3 linked regions of the Homo sapiens genome follow. The protein of the gene in region 2 purifies or fractionates together with the protein of the main gene of each other region. This does not show direct contact. Each region holds a gene or a part of one and is shown on either strand. Other genes may lie near its edges.

Region 1 (3,659 bases), on a different chromosome or scaffold from region 2:
ATTCCTGTCATATCATTTGGCAGAAGAGGTAGCAGAGGCTTGAAAAGTTTAGCTGGCTGCCCTAAATCATACAGCTAATAAGTGACAAAGCTGCCATTTGAATCAAGTTGGTCCGATATCAAACCCCACACTCCCTATTTTGGATGCCTCCAGTGTGTGAAGTATATTCATGCCCAGTGAACACTGGATTTAAACTGCTTATCTCAATCACAGTTAAACAGAAAACATCTGTTATGACAACCAAGGATCACCCACAGCATCACTATACTAAAAAAAAAAAACTTCATGGGAAAAGCCATTCCCCACTGAGCAATGTTGGATAAGGCAAATTTGAAAAAAAAAGAAAAAGAAGTGATTATTGAATCCATATTACAAATCTGGCTCCTGAAAAAGGGAATTGTTTTAAGGGATTCTACAAAATATCATCTCTCATTGCCTCAATCTATTTCTGCTTGGCCTACGAAAAAGGAACTAAGTGACTCTTCTAACAGTGTATTTTATTAGATCCAGATATGAATTGAGTTTGGTTTGCAAATTATTTCATTGTCTTTAAAATAAAAGAGGATAACATTAAATGGCAAGACTTCTGTGCTTGCACAAAGGTCTATAATGCAGAAAACTTCCAAACAATCTTTTAGGAAGAGGAACAATTTATACTTCCATAATTTGTGAGGTGGATTAGCTGCCATTCGAAATAATTTGAAAAGAAGTCAAAATGTGTATTTTGCCATTTTTGTGAATAGTAAATCAGAAAATAAAAGTGAAGTGTTTAGCAACAAGTTTGGCACAAATAATCTCAACAAATAAAAGTTCATGCTATTGAGATTGCTAACGTTAATATTATTTAGGCTACAGGATAAATTGTGCAAGATATCTGCAAAAACAAACAAGCAAATAAAAGAAAAAACTGGTTGTCGGATGCATCTAATTTTTTTCCACTTTTTTTTTTTTTTTTTTTTTTTGAGACAGTCTTGCTGTGTCACCCAGGCTGCGGTGCAGTGGCGCAATCTCAGGTCACTGCAAGCTCCGCCTCCCGGGTTAACGCCATTCTCTTGCCTCAGCCTCCTGAGTAGCTGGGACTACAGGCGCCCGCCACCACGCCCGGCTAATTTTTTGTATTTTTTGTAGAGACGGGGTTTCACCATGTTAGCCAGGATGGTCTCGATCTCCTGACCTCGTGATCTGCCTGCCTCGGCCTCCCAAAGTGCTGGGATTACAGGTGTGAGCCACCGTGCCTGGCCTTCCACTTTTTAACCTAGTAGTGCATATGTCTGTAGTATTCAACAGTTGTTCAAAATATATTCTTCTAAAGTCAAGCCAACATTACTGGATTTCATTGGCATTTTATAATAATGGTTCATTTCTCAATGTAAACCACTTACAGTGAGTACTTGTCCAATAGAATATTCCCCTGAGAGGACCAAGGTGGTCCCATACCAGAAGGCCAGAGCATAAGATGCATAGATCAGCAGGAAAGCAGCACCTATAGAAATATTGGCTGTAATAGCTTTCTTTATCCCAATTCTTTTAGCTTCTTCTAAATTTTTGTTGTACCTGAGAAAAAGAACAAAAATGATCACATATACATTTTATGAAAACATGTCGATATAGCATGATAGTTACAGAGTGGCTAGGATGTGTTCAGTCCTGTGATATACATGCATTTTGTCCTGCTGCTCATACATTGACCCTATATAGTAGTACTGTTTTACTCCCTTTTTGCAGAAGAAGAAACTGACATTTATAGAGATTAACTTATTTGTGGGGGAGTCTTCTAAAATTTCCTTCTCTGGCTTTAGCAATAGCAAATAAGTGAAGCAATATTTAGCAAACTTCTAAAACTTACATTGTTTCATACACAAGACAAAGTAAAAGCCATGGAAAAAACCTGTGTCTTTCCTTCAAAATCTGCATGCCTCTTTAATTAATAAAATGGAGAGATAATGTTAGAAAGTACTAAAAAAAAAAAAAAGGGACAGTCATTTAAATCTCTGAACATTAAGGAAGTTTGGAGACAGTTTGCTCTCTGTCCTGCCTTCCTCTAGGACTGTCGGAATGACCAACTGAGAGGTTACATGTGTGAGAGCATTTTGAGAGTTCTGAATTGCCATGTAATACTTTTTACATTTAAATAAGCTGTACAATTTATCTTACTTCCGTAGACATTTATTTTAAAAATCACTGACCTACAAAAATTATTTGGCTTACAGGTTTATAAAAGCACATCATTATTCATCAGCATTCCCTCTCTTCCTTCTCCTTTCTACATATTGACTATGTGTCCTTCCCTCTATTAATGCTCCCAACACTTGTCATGCCATAGCTGCCAGCTGCTGAACTAACAGGATCTGACCTGGTGGCTTGGGCCATCCACGGCTTCTGACTAACTCAAGGGCTGAGAAAAATTAAATTATTAGCATATCTATAGCCCTGAACCCATTCATAGCACAAAGGCCTACCCTACATTAACCAAACCTGGTGAGGACCCATTAATACTTCTTAGAGCAAATATAGGAAATTGTACAAAAGGGGCAAAAATGAGCAAATGAAAAAAAATCGAAAAACAATGTTGGAGTCACTGACAGATTTTATTTCTGCAGTTCTAATGACTTACAGGTTATTCCCAACTGATAATTCAAATATTTTTTAAACCCTCAGAGGGTGGTCAATTTTTGACGGTAAAGTTAAAGGAGATGATGTCTATAACTCGACCTTCATTTGAAAGGAACAGAGAAGACTACTCTGTTTAAGAGGATAGCTATGGAGATAAGCTAATGGAGCCCAGAGTTAAAGAAAAATAAGGAATTTTGCAAATGTAGAACCAAGGTAAAAGGATTAGAGAAACAGGACAGATTGCCTTAAATCTGTCTGTATTTTCTTAATCGCAACTCCCTGCAGAACCTAGAGCATTGCCTTGGATAGAGGAGGAGCTAATAATTGTTGAAATTCATGAACTTACTTCCATATAAAAGTCATACTTTAAGGTCTTTGATCCATAAATTCACAACTATATAAATATTATATAGCATTATATTAATTTCCTTTGGAGAACTTGTTCCATTAGCATGTACAGCAGAGCTCAAGCACTGTCCAGATATGAACATGCATTGTTTCTTGCTTTCATGACTACTTTAACTAGGTACATTACAGAGTTACAAAAGCATGCCAAGTGAAATTTACATCACTACCGTGTTCACTAAAGATGAAATTTAAACAGAACTTCATAGTGACAACATAGCAACACATCATTAGTTTCTACCCCCCAAAATGTAAATCCTCAACTTGCCAGTTATCATCTGAACAGAAAAATTATTTTTGAGAAACGTTTCAATTATTTATATACACATATGCACACACACACAACACACAGACACATACATATCTCTCACTTTATGAGTTGATCTGAGGTAAAAGCTACCACTGGGCATAACTTACATAAGAATATATTTAAGGACATTTAATACATATGTACTATACTCTGTTATCTCCTTTATTTCAGTTCTCGCTTACCAAGACTAACGTAGAAACCAGTCTGATGTTGTCCTATGCAGCCAGAGGAAACATTTGCACAGAAGCACAAGGAAGAAAATCATTTAGACATCAGAAAGGAGAAATAAAGGAAAGAAGGGGGCAAAGGGAAATGAGATATAAACAATACT
Region 2 (3,659 bases):
GGTAGAAGAGAACCATCTTTTCTTAGCATGTGGAAATAACCTAACAATTCCTTTGAAAATAGAACCTATCTATACACATGCAACAAATCTGCACGTTGTGCACGTGTACCCTAAAACTTAAAGTATAATAAAAAAATAAACAAATAAAACGTGAAAAAAAAGAAAATAGAACCTAAACACATACTCTGTACTGAGTCAGTGTTCAACTCATGCTATTGACTTATTAAATAATGATGTCTAAGAACTCCACGCATTGGTAAGACCTAACTGGGTACCTTTCTGGGAATGAATAACAGTGATTTTAAAGACATTATTAACTGCAGTGAGATTTGCTCATCTGCCCAAGCTGAAGGGAGGCATCTGATTCATCTCGGTCAATTTAAACAGCTCAGATAATCTAAACATGGTGTGGACAAAATTAAAGGGCATTCCGAGTCCTTAATATTATGTGGGCTCTCTTTCAGAATGGTCTTACAAAATGTGCCTCAGGGGTTCTGTGGGTCCAGGAAATATCCACACAGTCCCTGACTTTGGTGGTGACAACAAAGGGATCGAAGATCTGAGAAAGGGAAGGAACAGAACACCACCTCCCGAAGCAAAACCAAACCAACAAGAAAAAATACTCACAATTGCTTAAAGAAATGGTTGATACTAGGTTGAAACTTTAAATTAGAAAATATTTTCTTCAGTTAATAGAAAGGAAATAAAGGATTGTCAAATCTTGTCATTGTCTATTTCTCCTCTTTAATTTCTTATAGAAATAGCAGATTTAAATACACACAAACACATACGGTTGCTTTTAGTTACAGCAACTTCACATTTTAGGAACAGACATGTCGTACTTTTCTGTAAGGCAAGAATGCTTAAGTGGAGTTGGCTCCACATTTAGAGCCAACAGAGCAGAAAGATCTCTAAAGAGCAAGGTGCACATTAATGGTGAGAAGAAATAGTACACAACAAGAAACACTAGGCACTTACAGGGTGTTCTCTTTTTTTAGATGGAGTCTCACTCTGTTGCCCAGGCTGGTGTGCAGTGGTGTGATCTTGACTCACTGCAACCTCTGCCTCCTGGGTTCAAGTGATTCTTGTGCGTCAGCCTCCCGAGTAGCTGGGACTACGGGTGCGTGCCACCATGCCCGGCTAACTTTTGTATTTTTAGTAGAGATGGGGTTTCACCATGTTGGCCAGGCTGGTCTCGAACTCCTGACCTCAAGTGATCCACCTGCCTCGGCCTCTCAAAGTGCTGGGATTAGCAGGTGTGAGCCACTGTGCCCAGCCTATAGATTTTTTTTTTTATAACTAAAAGAATTACATGGGAAATTTTAGGTGGAAGAAAGATTTTCAAATATCCTATGTCTTCATGGTGGACAGAAATGCAGGGAGTCATGTAATAACCCAAAAAAAATACTTAAGAACCTCATCCATGTAATATCATGGAATTAGGGATTACGGTGGGTTACATCACAGTCTTATTAGATATAATGGACATCTTTAGATGCCATATATTCAGGCTCTATCTATGTCAGCAAGTGGCTGAGAATAAAGGCTTAAAAAAGTCCACTTTATCTACTTAAGCTCTGGTTCATAAATGCCTAGGACAGGTGGACCCTCCATGGAATAATATGTTCACTAAGCTGGTGTTCCTATACCTGAAAACATGTACTGTGAGAGTCTCTTAGCACACAGCTAGGTAGCCTATAGGTCTTTTCTGTGGGGTGGGAGAGCAGAGGAAGCCATTCTTTGTTTATTTGAGATAATCCAACCAGGTTCATGACTTCCTTTCCTTTGTTTCTATTTTAAGGAGGAAAAGAAACAGAAATCCCCATTTCCACTCCAACCCTATCCTCAACACAAATTATAATACCTTAAAATTGTAGTAGAAGGAGCTATAAACCATAAAAAGATAAAGTTCAATTGCTGAGGGGCAGCAATCGTAAGCATGTTCTTACCTGATGTGGCCGATCAATTCAATAAGCTTGTGACTAAAAAAATATGCTGTCAGCTCAGACACATGACTCAGGACTGAACAGACCCCAAAGAGGGTTGTAGTTCCATTGAGGTCTTCCAAATGCCAGTAGAGAAAGGTGAACACGAAGCCATATCCAAAACCCATGAACCAAGCCACAAACAGCACTGAGCCATACTGCACGCTGCAGAGCAGCTTGATTAAGTCCCAAAAGTTGAAGGCCTGCGAGTGGCTTGTGGTGGTTGGTGTCTCCTCAGAGGACTCTGTAGAGTTGTTCCTTTCCACCTGCGGGATCTCCACCTCTTTCCCTTTAGAATCATCGTTTTTGAAATGGTTGTAGCGGAACCGGAACTGAGTGGCAACGATCAAGGCCATGGTCATGAGAACGCCGAAGACGATGAAGACGATCTGGTAATTCCTGTACTCGGGGGGCTTACACCCCTTTCCATCGATGAGCACTTCGATGTGGGTGTAGTCGATCCCGATGCCCACAGACAGCATCGCCAGGCCCCAGCCCAGGGAGCCCCACATGCGCTGCAACCCATAGCGATCTCTGTGTTTTCCCAGATACTGGAGTGTGACCGTGTCTACGATTGTGACAGAAGAGGCACTGAAAAATTCTCCTATTATGACAACTACCAAGATCACCAAGAATATAGCTTCAACTTCTTGTTGATCATAAACAAGCATGACTTGGTCAGAAGGTAAAGATTTGGTGGTGGTAACAATAACAGTGGTTGTCTCCTTGGTTACGCTTCCTGGGGAGACAGGGGTTGCTGTGCTTGAGTTCAAAGTCAAGTCCATCATACGGTTAGTAATTTCACCTGTCTGGGGCTGCAGAGTGGGTTCACTGTTCATGTTTGGAGCTGTTGGCAAAGTAACGGTGTCTGAGACATTGAGCCTTGTTTCCAAAAGGTTTCTTTTCTCACGCATTTTTGGTGATATGGTGAGGAAAGAGGTAAAGGAAGAATTTGTTGGCAGGATAGTTAACTGGTGACTTGCATTGGTGGGGTGAGTTGTTGGGCGAATCTTTGGTACACATCTCAAGGTAGCAGGTTTGACAAATCCAATGCCCAGGTTGAATAAAACCCAACACAAAAGAGAAAAGAGGAGGACAATTTTGCCTTTTTTAAAGCGGTCTGCAACTACACCCCAAAAGGGGGCACTGCAGAATTCAATGAAGTAACGAATACCTACTAGTAGTCCACTCTGGCTTGGAGACATTCCCAGCTGTTTGTAATACACAGGCAAAAGGGGATAGAGAGAGCCATAGGCAGAGTAAAAGAAAAAATAAAAGACCTTGGAAATTAGAAGATCGTTGTTTATCTTAACACAATGTTTCTCTATCCAGTCTATTTCCTCCTCAGGAATAGCAGATGTTTCTGTGGAGGAAGGTGTTTCATTCGAAGGTGGTTCTGGTTCCCTGGAAATACCATTAAAGGGATCTGCAAGCACATACTTTCTCTTCTGTTCCTCTTCATCATCCGTTAAGATAGCAACTTTATCATCTGCCATGGCTTACCACCACCATCAGCAAGTTTACAAACTTCAGAATTTGTACTGTTGATCTGTAAAGTAAAATTTAAAAGATGGCTTAGTAATGAAAATCATAACATGTAAACACAGAACTTCATCTTGCAGGAAATTAAGCAGTTACAAACTAAAATAATAATTGCAAGAGAGAATTCTCATC
Region 3 (2,877 bases), on a different chromosome or scaffold from region 2:
CTGTTTGGGGACTGGGACTTGAAAACTGCTAATAGGTTTTTAAAACTTTCAATGTGAAATAAGCAGTCACAATATTAAGCAGTGGGGAAAGGGACTCTTAACTAGCTGAGGGAATGGATTGACACCTTTCCTTTGTTTATTTGCTAGATGCTGCATTCCTGGCCCGAGAGAAAGCGAAAGCAGATGCTGAATATTATGCTGCACACAAATATGCCACCTCAAACAAGGTGACTGGCTCCCTGGCCACTTTCCTAATGATGCATTTCGGGGTTTTGCTTTCTCTTTTCAGGAGCTCTGATATGATAGAAGTGATTTTATCCATTGTCAAGAAAGTGTAGTGACCAAGACATCCTCCAGAATTAGTCAGTTAGCAAGAAATATTTCACATTGATTGGGTAGGGACACAGGCCAAATGCCGTAATTCCATTCATTTGTACTGCTATATAAGGCTGAATAATTAATTAAGTTGAAGGTCTTCTGAAATAAGAGTGACAGAAGAGTAAAGTCTATTTAGAATTGCTTTCCAAATAAGGTAGTTTTTTTGGTAGATACTTAGCTTGATTAGAGCAGTATTTCTCATCAAAGGCATTCCTGGCATTTGGGGTTGAGATACTTTTTCATTGTTGAAGACCATCTCATGCATTGTAGGATATTTTGTATCCCTGGCCCTTGTCTACTGAATGTCAGTAGTGGTCACCAGTTGTTTTAACTGCCACACACACATGCATGTATTTCCATATGCCCCTTGTTGAGTACTCCTTGTTTATTGGATTTAAAAAACTATTCCAGTCATGAGGAATTTCATGTGGGATAACTTGAGAAGGCAGGTTGGGTGATATATAGGTGATAATTTGGTGTAAGGACTGGGGTAAGCTGGCTAGACGGTACAGGGCTAGTGAGCAGGGGCTATTTAAGAGGCAGCTAGAACTCCGATAGTATTCTGAGAAGGGAAGGGTATGTCCAAGATTTATAAGGTTATCGTGGAGCAGATTGGAACAGATAAAGGGTTGAGAAAGAGATTACTAAAGTGGATGATGCAGTTTGAAGGATTAGAGTCAAGTTTTAAGATATAGACAGGGCTTTTAATTTAGAAAGGAACAACATAATCCGTATTTAGAAGAAATGATAAGATGATAGAATGAGAGTTGTCAGTACTTTGAAAACCAATATAAATTTTAAAATGAACATAACATTGAAAGACACAGTTCTATAGACACAGAATGGAATTTGGCCAAAAGAAAGGCATGACAGGAAACTCCAGTTGAGGAAACTAGGAGTCCAAATCTAATGGGAGAAGCTCGTCAGGCACAAGTTTCAAGACCTTGCCATTGAGGTCTACCTTATTCAGAAAGGGGCAGTAGTTTTATGCCATTTTGAAAAATGTGACTCAGATACTAACCTATATTAAAAAGGCTTGAGGAAGAAATGTGGTTGTGCACTATGACCAGATTTGATTGGAGTGTTTCGACAGAGGATATGAATCACCTGGAGAAGATAGAGATCCAAAGAGTGAAAGATGTCAAAGTGTAGAAAATAAATGCTGTAGGACTGTGAAGGACAAGATGGACTTTTGCCTGGGGGACAGGCCAGGACTCAAGATAAGGAGAGGATCACAGAGCAGGGTCTGAGGGGCTTTGAAAGGCATATGTTACAGGGAACAGTGGAAATGGGTTTTAATCAAATCCAGATAGATTCTGGTTAGATACATCTTGGCATCCTGATTTAGACAAAACAAAACAGTGTGACAGAGGGAGATCTGGTGGTCGACGAGTTTTAATCAAACCCAGATAGGTTCTGGTTAGATACATCTTGGCATCCTGATTTAAACAAAACACTGTCACATAGATCTGGTGGTCGACAAACATCTGTCTGTCACAAGCAGCTTAAACATCCAGCTTCTGGGGAAAGGCAGAAGGCCAGATCAGGTGACAACTTGAGATTTTATTCTAGTTCTAGAATTTGTTCAAGAAAAGCAGAATCACAGCTAATGATAAGATAATGAGCACCAGCCCTTCCTTTGAAGTTCTGCTCTCATCCACTGACCTGTGTATCTCTCTCAAGAGAATCAACAGAGAACCAGGCATGATGGCTCATTCCTGTAGCCTCCCTGGAGGCTAAGATGAGAGTATCTCTTGAGCCCAGAAGTTTGAGGCTGCAGCAGCGAGCTATAATTGAACCACTGTATTCCAGCCTGGGCAACAGAGTGAGATCTCATCTCCAGAAAAAAAAAAGGCTGGGTGCAGTGGCTCACATCTTTGATTCCGACACTTTGGGAGGCCAAGGTAGGAGGATTGCTTGAGGCCAGGAGTTTGAGACCAGCCTGGCAACATAGACCCCATCTCTACAAAAATAAAAATAATTTTTTTAGAAAAGAGAATCAACAGAAACTCCAGACCAATTCCAGGTTGAATTCAACTAGATGAAATGAAAGTCACTTTAGAAATATTAGTTATTATCATTAGTTATCACAAATTGTTTTCCAACTCCCCCATCCTTTTATTAAAAAGTGAACAGCTTCTCTTGCATTAAGTCAGGAGCTTAATGAAGGAATTTTAAGTCAGGAACGCAGCTGTTAATGTGATAGCCACTCTCCAAAGTGAGAGAGGGTCATTGGCAGTTATTCAGACTTGACTCATGATACTCAGGAGAGCAATAGGTGAAATGTATATAGGGAGAGAGAAGACTGTTGCACCAGAGTATTCTGATGCCTTTGCTCTTGTTTGCTCCCACACAGCACAAGTTGACCCCGGAATATCTGGAGCTCAAAAAGTACCAGGCCATTGCTTCTAACAGTAAGATCTATTTTGGCAGCAACATCCCTAACATGTTCGTGGACTCCTCATGTGCTTTGAAATATTCAGATATTAGGACTGGAAG

The links.
Region 1: the proteins of MFSD6 (region 2) and ABCB1 purify together in Homo sapiens (affinity purification with mass spectrometry; one large-scale study listed by BioGRID and IntAct). This does not show direct contact.
Region 3: the proteins of MFSD6 (region 2) and ERLIN1 purify together in Homo sapiens (affinity purification with mass spectrometry; one large-scale study listed by BioGRID and IntAct). This does not show direct contact.

What each region holds. Positions count from the first base shown.
Region 1 is NC_000007.14:87,552,379-87,556,037, forward strand, and holds part of ABCB1 (ATP-dependent translocase ABCB1), read right to left. Parts: intron 1,555-3,659; coding exon 1,383-1,554; intron 1-1,382. UniProt on the Homo sapiens protein: Translocates drugs and phospholipids across the membrane. Catalyzes the flop of phospholipids from the cytoplasmic to the exoplasmic leaflet of the apical membrane.
Region 2 is NC_000002.12:190,435,852-190,439,510, reverse strand, and holds part of MFSD6 (major facilitator superfamily domain-containing protein 6), read right to left. Parts: intron 3,535-3,659; 5' UTR 3,482-3,534; coding exon 1,950-3,481; intron 1-1,949.
Region 3 is NC_000010.11:100,152,210-100,155,086, reverse strand, and holds part of ERLIN1 (erlin-1), read left to right. Parts: intron 1-147; coding exon 148-227; intron 228-2,734; coding exon 2,735-2,877. UniProt on the Homo sapiens protein: Component of the ERLIN1/ERLIN2 complex which mediates the endoplasmic reticulum-associated degradation (ERAD) of inositol 1,4,5-trisphosphate receptors (IP3Rs).